3 linked regions of the Homo sapiens genome follow. The protein of the gene in region 1 purifies or fractionates together with the protein of each later gene. This does not show direct contact. Each region holds a gene or a part of one and is shown on either strand. Other genes may lie near its edges.

Region 1 (3,654 bases):
AACCTGAATATTAATTTAGAATAATATTTTAAAAAATAACCTTTTTCTTTCCTACCAATGCCACTATTGCCTGAGCATTCCCTTTAAATCCACATAATGGGCAGGCACCGTAGCTCAAGCCTGTAATCCCAGCACTTTGGGAGGCTGAGGCGGAGGGATCACCTGAGTCTAGGAGCTCGAGACCAGCCTGGCCAACATGGCAAAACCTCGTCTCTACTAAAAATACAAAAATTAGCCGGATGTGGTGGCACACACCTGTAATCCCAGCTACTCTGGAGGCTGAGGCACGAGTATCGCTTGAACCCGGGAAGTGGAGGTTGCAGTGAGCTGAGATCGCACCACTGTACTCCAGCCTAGGTGACAGAGAGACTCTGCCTCAAAACAAAAACAAAAATCAATATAATGGATGTATATTGACATGTTGTTAGTAATACTTTGAATATATTTAGTTTTAGAAAATTTACAATGTATTTTCACAGATGCCCTTTGACCTTCACAAAACCCAAAGAGGAAGGTAAAATAGATACCACATCTGCAATCTGAGGTCAATACTATACTTTTCTGGGTCTCATTTCCTAATAATAAGCTGGGAGGGTTGAGTTTCAATAATTTCTTAAAAAATCCTGGTGCCAAAAATCTGTGGTCTCAATTTATAAATATGAAAACAGAATTAGGTTAAAAAACTGGTCCACTGTCACGGAGTAAATAAAGAGTCAAACCTAGAAGGAGAACGTCTGTTTTCTGAATTCCAGTCAGAGGCTCTTTCTGTCACAATATTTCCCTTAGATGTAAAGAAAATTTGACATTCTTTGCCTCTCCTTTCTATTTTGTTTACTTTGAGTTTTTATCAAAATTGTAGAGACTTGTTTTTGTAAGAGCAGTGAAAAGAAAATAAGAGGTAAAGTGGGAGGCAGTGGTATCATACCGATAAAAGGAGTAAGGAAAAATGCAAATTATGCTGATAAATTTGTATCATCTATGTGAAAAGCTGGGCTAAATATATTTATTGAAGACTTTATGGGATATAGTCAATACGGATACATTTCTCCTTGATTTAAGACATTATTAGCACATACAGCCATACTCTAGCAGTGGGTTCAAACTTTTTAAAAAAACAGCAGAGCCAGGCATGGTGGCTCACGCCTGTAATCCCAGCACTTTGGGAGGCCACGGTGGGCGGATCACGAGGTCAGGAGGTTGAGACCATCCTGGCTAACACGGTGAAACCCCATCTCTACTAAAAATACAAAAAATTAGCCAGGTGTGGTGGCGGGCGCCTGTAGTCCCAGCTACTCGGGAGGCTGAGGGCAGGAGAATGGCGTGAACCTGGGAAGCAGAGCTTGCAGTGAGCCTTGATTGCGCCAGTGCACTCCAGCCTGGGTGACAAAGCGAGACTCCGTCTCAAAAAAAAAAAAAAAAAAACTCCAGCAGAAACTCCCCCCTTTATTCTAGATATTAGTAAAAGCTTATGCAGAACCCTAATTGCTCAGACTAAAGTACAGCTGAGACCTCAGAATTCAATCCATTTGGTTTCCTTTTTCTCTCCCAAACTGGCTCTGCAGAACAGTCTGCAAAACCACCACTGGGCTACAGATTAAATTTATATTCCATCTCATTCAGAGACCATGAGTCTAGATTAAATTTGGTAACTGATGTAACAAATTATTCATAGAAAATTTCCTTCTCAATGAGAAAAACTTATAAACCTTACTATATAATATGTAATCATGAAACAGAAAATGATACACACACAACCATACCCATGGCTGTTATCTCTAGGGCTAAGGAGAGCAACAGGTCCAGAATTATAAAAGTGATTAAAATATCCTCCTAATTTATTCCACTTATGCTCAGATGAATGAAAGTCAGAACTAAAAGTAAGAGTCAGTGGGCATCCAGGGGTATTACGGACAAGTCTAACATATTAGAAAGAGCTACAGCAGCTGAAAAAGAAGGTGCTCAGGTGGGATCCAATTTGGGTTAATAGGCAACTAGATAGCATGTTTGCACTGTGTAAAAGATGAACATTACTTAGAACATAACACCTTAATAACTAAAAACTTAGCTCAATTGTAATGACAAAGTTATTCTGTAAAAATAAAATACTCTCCCAGGTAAAGAGACTACTTCAACACAAATCAAACTGTCTTAAGACGGAAATAAAGACATTCTTAGAAGTTTATAAAAACTTCATATATTTACACAAGAATAAACACTCTTTCGAAGATTATAATTTCTTACCATTTGCATATGGTGTGACCATCTTCTTATTGGTCATTACACGTGCTGTAGCATTATTCACCTAAAAATAACAAGGAGAAAAAAGGGCAGGGAAGAAGTGGACCACATTAGGGAACATAAAGTTGCACATCCAATAACAGAGTATTTAGTTTAAAATGTAAATTTCTGAGAGCAGTGATTTAAATAATTAACACAGCAATATAAAATATTAATATATAGTATTTTAATTAAAGTTCTTATCAAATGAGGATAACAAGAGTAAAGTGAGTTTCTTGGTTTCCAAATATCAGTACTCCAAAGAAAATACATTTGCAAGATCTTTGGACATCTTTTTAACAGAGAAATCTCTGCACTAAGGAAAACACAGAAAAAAGTAAATAGGAAACTATATTAGCAATTCACTTTGAAGTCTGTTAATAAAACAGAGGCTTGCCACATGGGTTATGAAATAGATTGATGGAAAGGTGATAAAATAAATCTGATTTCACCTGTCCTAATGTTCAGCATTTTAAATATGTCTGTCAGAGATTTTTACTGTCTGAGGTAAGTAAACAAATATAGAAACCTAAGATTCCCCTGCTGACAGCCTTCAGGACCATTCTGAATTTTCTAGACTACATGGTCTATCAATTTAAGAACAAAGCTTTTAAGAAAGCCTTTAAAGTAGGCACTTAAAAGAATTGAGAAAATAAAGTGTTTATTTATTTTGTTTTATGGTACTCTCCACCCTCATTACAGAACTGCATATTTTAAAGCATTCTCAGTGCTAGAGTAAGTAGGTGTTACAAAGATGCTGCTGCTGAAGAAAAGATGAATGGAACTAAGATGTCAGCATACTGCAGCCCAGTGACAGAACCAGTCTCAAAGCTCTTGCAAGGAGGGTAAAGCTCCACCATAGAACTTGACTTATACTGTGTTGTCAGGTCATAAAACATGCCAATTGAAAAAAGAAGCATAAAATATAAATGTCTTATTTTTGCCTCTTCAAATTTACATTGTGTTCAATTTGTATGGTAATAAATTTTTGTTATGAAAAGACCAATTTTAGGTAGAATTAGAACTAAAAAAAAAACCTCTTCCTATGTCTTTTAAGATTTGTACAGTGATAATCCCCCATATGAGGAAAGAGCTTGAAACTCCATTTACTCTAGCTTCGCCCACCAAATAATATAAACGTTTCACATTTAAAAAGAAAGAATGGGATACAACAATGATGAGACTGAGAGCATGCAGTTAAAAAACACACACACACAAATAAAAGAAAGAAAAAACAATCAATTTTGGAAAGAGGGGAGAAACTGAAAAGCAAGGTTCTCACAGACAAGGATTAGAATGGAGCAAGAGCTGAAACCAGCTGCTGGAGCAGAAAGCAACCAAGCACTTAAAAGGAAAAATGGCCAGAACCAATCAGAA
Region 2 (3,654 bases), on another chromosome or scaffold:
TGTGTATCATCCTTGCCAGTCCCCAAATCATGACAAGCCTAAGCAAGGTGAAAGCACTGCTCATTCCCCTCTGTAATCACCTCAAACGTGCAGCCTTTTTCCCTGCCAAAGTATTAGGAATAACAATGCAGCCGCACCTGGCATGCCTGCTGCCAGACCTTGTCCAAATGCAAGGGCAGAATTCACTGCTGCAGCTGCCACAAGGGGATCCGTTTGCTGTCCCTGCTGGTTCTGGTTTGGGGTCAAAGGACGTTGGCTGGCTCCTCCACGGAGAACCTGGGAAAGGAAGACAGAAATAACTCAACCACTTTCTTTTCATTGGAGAAGACCTACCCTATGCTCAGGTTGGGTCAACTTTTAAAACTTAATTGTAAATTGTTTCCCTATAATGGTTTTTATATGTCACAGCTGTTAGCGTATAAATTCAATTAATAACATTTCATAGAGTGGAATTTCATTCTACCATTCTTACTTTAAACACATTATCTCTATAAGCAGCAAAAAGCACACAAAAGTGATGATTCATTCATTCAAACATTTTATCTCATCTGCCTCATAAAGTTCTTGTGACAATTAAGTTAAAAGATGAATTTGGAATATCTGGCATCAGCAAGTGGTAGTGTTATCAAATATTTAATGCCTACCATGTGGCAAATGGGCAAGTGAGACAGAGCAATGAACAAGACCGACAAAGCCCCTGTCCTCATGGAGCTTTTATTTTAACGAATGAGACAGACAATAAACCATACTATATAATGTCAGTGCTCTGACAAAAAGTGGGTGAAGAAAAAAAAAGAGTGTAACAGGCCAGGCGTGGTGGCTCACGCCTGTAATCCTAGCACTTTGGGAGGCCGAGGCAGGTGGATTATCAGAGGTCAGGAGTTCGAGACCAGCCTGGCCAACATGGCAAAACCCCGTCTCTACTAAAACTACAAAAATTAGCCAGGCGTGGCAGCAGGTGCCTATAATCCCAGCTACGAGAGAGGATGAGGCAGGAGAATCACTTGAACCTGGGAGGCGGAGGTTGCAGTGAGCTGAGATCGAGACACTTCGCTCCAGCCTGGGAAAAAGAGCAAAACTCCATTTCAAAACACACACACAAAAAAAAAAAAAAAAAAAAGAAAAAAAAAGAGTATTAATGGGGGTTGGGAGGGGTTCCAGACAAGATGAACAGGGGTAATTTACCCACACATTTAAAGTCAACTGAGTCTCACATGCACACAAAAGATGGAATGAGAATATTTCCTCTTTAACACTAATATATTTATCAAGGTCCACATGGCCCCAAATGAGTTCACCAGATTCGATTTGGTAGGGCTCTCACCTGACTATTTCTATTTCCCTCTCAGAAATTCCACAAACATACGCATTAGTCAAGTTCAGTGCAGAATACCAGTTATGCCACTCTGATAAAGGATCTACTTTTTTTTTTTTGGTGGGCGGCGGGTGGCGCGGAGTGCAGGGAAGAGACAGGGCCATGCTCTGCTGCTCAGGCTGGAGTGTAGTGTGGCACAGTCTCAGCTCACTGTAACCCCTGCATCCCAGGCTGAAGAGATGCTCCCACCTCTCCTGAGTAGCTGGTACTACAGGTATGCACCACCACACCTGGCTAATTTTTCTATTTTTTGTAGAGACAGGGTCTCACCATGTTGTTCAGGCTAATCTCTAACTCCTGGGCACAAGCAATCCACCTGCCTTGGCCTGCCAAAGTGTTGGGATTACAAGTGTGAAGCCACTGAGCCCAGTCAAGGATCTACTTTTTATTAATGAAACACAGACATCAAAATGCTAGCAATCATTATTATTCTGAATGATGTGAAGAATCTATCTCACAAGATCTACACACTCCAGCAAGCAAAAATGCAAAACCCACAAACCAAGGCTAAAATTACTACAGTTCCTAACAATGTGTTTTGTCATATTGTCAAGTGTACAGTTCTTATCAGATCACTTTCAATTTCACTGTGTTATTTATAAAAGTTAGACATATGGTCAAGAAAATGGGTACAAATTATTCTTGGTACCAGTGGTAAAAAAAAAATGTAAAAAGAGAAGCAACACTAATAACCAATTAAATATTTGTTAAGTGAGTATAAGGTGACCAACACTGTCCACACTGGCAAGAAGGGATGTGTGGACACTTAATTTGCCCAATCTTTTACTTCTATATCAGTAATAAGTAAGAATTAACAAATGATCTTGCAGATTTGCTGGAAATATCTCAAATAATGTGTTTAAGCCACACTGCCTGATACCCAGGAGATCATCAATAACCAATAGCAAATCACTATTATCAAGATATTATATAATTTGTTTCTGACCTAAAGAACCTAACCAACTTTGTAAGAGAAAGTGTGTTTCAAACTACGTAGATAGAAGAGTCGGGGGGCTGTACAGGTGAGTTTTACCAAATACTTAGAATTTACATACCCAATAACTCAAAAGAGATCTCACTCTAGGATAAGTAAATAGCAAGCATTTTTGCCAAATACTTAGAATTTACATACCCAATAACTCAGAAGAGATCTCACTCTAGGATAAGTAAATAGCAAGCACAGAAATATGGCAAATGCTAATAGTTCAAAATTGCTGAAGATTTTAAAAAACAATGAAAGCATTGCTTTCACAGAATATAAAGAAGTAGGTTTATGTTTGATTAGGTGTTCTGTGAAAGGGCAGGTGTGGTAGAGTGGACAAGGTACCTAAAGAGGTAGTCTAAGACTATTGATGAGTCTTGTAATAAGGAAGGAAAACAGTGTTAGCTTTTTGTCCACTCTCTAGAAATCTGTCCAGTACCCCTAACTACAAATAAAAGTCCTTCAGTTATCTGCCAAAATTCATATATTTTCATTTCATCAATAGCTGTCAAATCCATGATTTTATGGAAACAAAATATACAGTTTCACAAGTAACATTTTAAAGTCTAATAAATCACAAAATGACTGAATTTATAAAAACTATCCTAGAACAGTCAGCTTGACTAGAACGCAACATATACTTTCTGATAAAATACAAGGGCCCAAAAGGCCAACAGCAAAGTTTAAAAAGAACCTCTCATTTTAATTACTATGACAAGGCAGTTTACCAAAAAAATCATATTTTCCTCAAATACTTAAAATCAGAAACTGGCACCCAAAAAAAAGGAACTAAAACAATGGCTGCTAATTAAAAACTAATGCTAAAAACTTCTTAGTAGGGTTTGACAGAACCTGTAGGGAATGACAGAAAACTGAAAAGTTAATGATTATTATGTCCATTTTATAACAAAAATATATGCATTTAGAGAAGCCATCCAACTTGCCCTAGTTGTAAGCTAGTTAACGGCAGAAGAAACACAAGATCTCAGATTTTCTTTAAGTCAAGACATCACAATATGGTCAGAAGAAAAGTTGTCAAGACAGAGGCTTATGTTCAAATCTTAACAACTTTGTATTTGTGTGACCCTGGGCACACAAATTGTATTTCCTCAATCGATTTCCTCTCAATTATGAAATTCTATTTCATAAAACAAGAAGTTGTACAACTATCATAATAAGAGAAATAGAAATTACATGTACAGCACTTAACTCTGCACAGAAAGCTTTCAATAAACAGCAATTAGTATTATTCTTGTTCACTGTATTAGACCTAATTTTAAAACATGGTAATTACTTT
Region 3 (3,654 bases), on another chromosome or scaffold:
TCAAGCAGTATTCTAGGTGCTAGCAATTCCACAGTGAACAAAATAAACAAAAATCTCTGCCTTCATGGAGTTTACATTCTATTAACAAAATTCAATGTCTTATAAAGTCAGGCAGCACACAGTGGGCTCAAAAAAGTACACAACAGGCCAGGTGTGGTGGCTCATGCCTGTAATCCCAGCACTTTGGGAGGCTGAGATGGGTGGATCACTTGAGGTCAGGAGTTCGAGAACAGCCTGGCCAACATGGTAAAACCCCACCTGTACCCCACATACAAAAATTAGATGGGTGTGATGGCGCGCACCTGTAATCCCAGCTACTCAGGAAGCTAAGGCAGGAGAATCACTTGAACCCAGGAGGTGGAGGATGCAGTGAGCCGAGACTGCGCCACTGCACTCCAGCCTGGGCGACAGAGACTCTGTCTCAAAAAAAAGTACAAAACAATTATTAGTTAATAAAGATCATGGTAGAGCATAGTAGCTAACACCCGTAATCCCAGCACTTGGGGAGGTCAAGGTGGATGGATCATTTGAAGTCAGGAGTTCAAGAGCAGCCTGGCCAACATGGCAAAATCCATCTCTACTAAAAATACAAAAATTAGCTAGGTGTGGTGGTACACACCTGTAATCCCAGCTACTTGGGAGGCTGAGGCATGAGAATCACTTGAACCCAGGAAGCAGAGGTTGCAGTGAGCCAAGATCACACTCCAGCCTGGGTGACAGAGCAAGTCCCTGTCTAAAAAAATAAATTAAAAAAAAAAAAAGTCGTAAAAACCAACAAATTTCAAATGCACTTAAAATAGTTTAACTTTCTCAAATTTCAGCTGAGCTACAGGAGATTGAAAAATTCCTTTGGTTGGCAGCAAGCCAAAGAACTGGAAGCCATTTGAGAATTCAGAAGTCGCTTGGGATCCTGCAATATCTCATCCGTGTAAGTCTCAGCTGCAGTTTATCCATTGCTTAAAGTCATATGCGTGGCTAATAATCAGGAACTAGTTACTTTCCTATTATATTAGCTCAAAGTATTATTCCTTAGGTAAAAATAGATTGTGTCTCACCACAGCACCACGGGAGTTTATTCCAGAACTTACTTTCCCTCATATCTCATAATGAACTAACTGTATCATCACCCAGAACAAGCCAGCAAATGACCATGGCAACCTTATTTTATGGTCTCCCACTATCTCACAACTAACTATACAGTCTTCACCACTGAAGTTAGAGAGGTGCTTCTGTCTCTGTGGCTGAATCTAACATTAACAAGCCAAAAACCAGAAGTAGCTTATATGAGCAAACTGCTGCTTTGCCTCTGCCTCTGCCCCATGTTAGTATCTTCTAATATCAATAAGCCACCACAGAACATGTCACTTACCATCAGACAAAGAAAACATTAACTGGTTTCTGTAAATCCCTCCTCTCCACTTGCAAGAATAACACAAATCTCAAAAGACAATCATAAGCAATTATAATTCAAGAAGGTCACTGAATAAATGAGTCTAGACCCTACATTTCAGAGAAGGGATAACCAATGCCTGAAGCAGTTGCATGGTTAGTCTAAGATAAGATATCTACTACAATGAAAGAGCCAAACTCAAAACCAGATTTTTTGCCTCCAAATCAGGTACACTTCTCAATACACCAAGGTAAATCTACTTCTATTTTAAGACTAGCAAGTACTGTTTCTAAGCCAAAGTCTAGTATTAAAAGGGCAAGGATATTACGAGATGCACTGGGAAGGAGACCAGGAAAAGACCCACCACAGATCAGATCAGGTATGTATCTCCTTCTCATACACTAATTCCTTAGATTATGATACAGAAAATACTTTGAATTTTTAGCTTGTGTTTGACTGTCACTTTCTCTGGTACCTCCTCTAGCAAAAAAAAAAAAAAAAAAAAGCCTGAAACGTGACTGAAATCCATTTATTAAAATTCTATGGAGCAGCAATGGAATTGGAAAAAGCAGGCCGGCAGAAGAGAAAGCTATGTAAACCTGGGTTAATTCTTACTCATTCTTCTAATTTAGCTGAGATGTCAACTTCTTTTAGAAAGCCTTAATTCCTCCTTCCCCAGACTACTCTCACAGCAGAGTTATCAGTTATCACTGTACTTGCCTCATGACGTTTTGTTTACCCACCTCTAACCAAAAGGACCAAGTTCTTTGAGGGCAAAGATTTCTACCTTAGCTCTTCAATCCTACATCTAGCACTGAGTGTAGCAGCACACAGTGGATGCTGAATTAATGAATTCATAAACTTGCCACATCTATTGAAGCCTCAATATAAATGGCAAAATGTGGCAATCCTATTTATTTATTTATTTATTTATTGAGATGGAGTCTCGCTGTCACCCAGGTTGGAGTGCAGTAGAGCGATCTCGGCTCACTGCAATCTCCGCCTCGCGGGTTCACGCCATTCTCCTGCCTCAGCCTACCAAGTAGCTGGGACTACAGGCGCCTGCCACCACGCCTGGCTAATTTTATGTATTTTTAGTAGAGACGGGGTTTCACCGTGTTAGCCAGGATGGTCTCGATCTCCTGATCTCATGATCTGCCCACCTCGGCCTCCCAAAGTGCTGGGATTACAGGAATCCTCTCCATTGACTTAAGATGTGGTTCTCGGCCGGGTGCAGTGGCTCACGCCTGTAATCCCAGCACTTTGGGAGGTAGAAGCAGGCGGATCACAAGGTCAGGAGATCAAGACCATCCTGGCCAACACAGTGAAACCCCGTCTCTACTAAAATACAAAAAATTAGCCAGGCATGGTGGCGCACACCTGTAGTCCCAACTACTCAGGAGGCTGAGGTAGGGGAATCGTTTGAACCCAAGAGGCGGAGGTTGCAGTGAGCCAAGATCATGCCACTATACTCCAGCCTGGCAACAGAGCGAGACTCAATCTCAAAAAAAAAAAAAAAAAAAAAAAAAAAAGACGTGGGTTCCAAACATTTTCTAGAAGACCTTTGATTTTGTTTTTTTTGAGGTGGAGTCTCACTCTGTAACCCAGGCTGGAGCGCAGTGGTGCAGTCTCGGCTCATTGCAACTTCTGCCTCGTGGGTTCAAGCGATTCTCCTGCCTTGGCCTCCTGAGTAGCTGAAATTACAGGCAGGCGCCACCACGCCCGGCTAATTTTTGTACTTTTAGTAGAGACCAGGTTTCACCAGATCAGGGCCAGGTGCGGTGGCTCAATGCCTGTAATCCCAGCACTTTGGGAGGCTGAGGCAGGCGGATCACCTGAAGCCAGGAGTTCGAGACCAGCCTGGTCAACATGGTGAAACCCAGTCTGATCACGCCTTACAAAAAATTACCTGGACCTGGTGGCACACGCCTGTAATCCCAGCTACTCAGGAGGCTGAGGCATGAGAATGGCTGGAATCCAGCCGGCGTAGGTTGCAGTGAGCCGAGATTACACCACTGCACTCCAGCCTGGGCGACAAAGCAAGACTCTGTCTCAAAAATAAATAAATAAAACTGTCTGAACTTATTAATTCAATGCAAACACAACTATACCCACATACTTTGAGGGTCTGGAGATCTATTCAAGCCATGAACAGTGCTAACTCCAGCTATGCACTCCTGCCAAGATGCTTAAATGTTATCCACTTATTGAACAATGACCACTTGCGTCAAATACAAATTCCCATACTCCCTCAGGGTAGAAAA

Evidence for each region.
Region 2: the proteins of RBFOX2 (region 1) and PUM1 purify together in Homo sapiens (affinity purification with mass spectrometry; 3 studies listed by BioGRID and IntAct, with this or other methods). This does not show direct contact.
Region 3: the proteins of RBFOX2 (region 1) and EIF4G3 purify together in Homo sapiens (affinity purification with mass spectrometry; 3 studies listed by BioGRID and IntAct, with this or other methods). This does not show direct contact.

Annotation. Positions count from the first base shown.
Region 1 is NC_000022.11:35,763,182-35,766,835, forward strand, and holds part of RBFOX2 (RNA binding protein fox-1 homolog 2), read right to left. Parts: intron 2,303-3,654; coding exon 2,242-2,302; intron 1-2,241. UniProt on the Homo sapiens protein: RNA-binding protein that regulates alternative splicing events by binding to 5'-UGCAUGU-3' elements. Prevents binding of U2AF2 to the 3'-splice site.
Region 2 is NC_000001.11:30,968,217-30,971,870, forward strand, and holds part of PUM1 (pumilio homolog 1), read right to left. Parts: intron 277-3,654; coding exon 138-276; intron 22-137; exon of another isoform or gene 1-21. UniProt on the Homo sapiens protein: Sequence-specific RNA-binding protein that acts as a post-transcriptional repressor by binding the 3'-UTR of mRNA targets.
Region 3 is NC_000001.11:21,170,244-21,173,897, forward strand, and holds part of EIF4G3 (eukaryotic translation initiation factor 4 gamma 3), read right to left. Parts: intron 1-3,654. UniProt on the Homo sapiens protein: Component of the protein complex eIF4F, which is involved in the recognition of the mRNA cap, ATP-dependent unwinding of 5'-terminal secondary structure and recruitment of mRNA to the ribosome. Functional homolog of EIF4G1.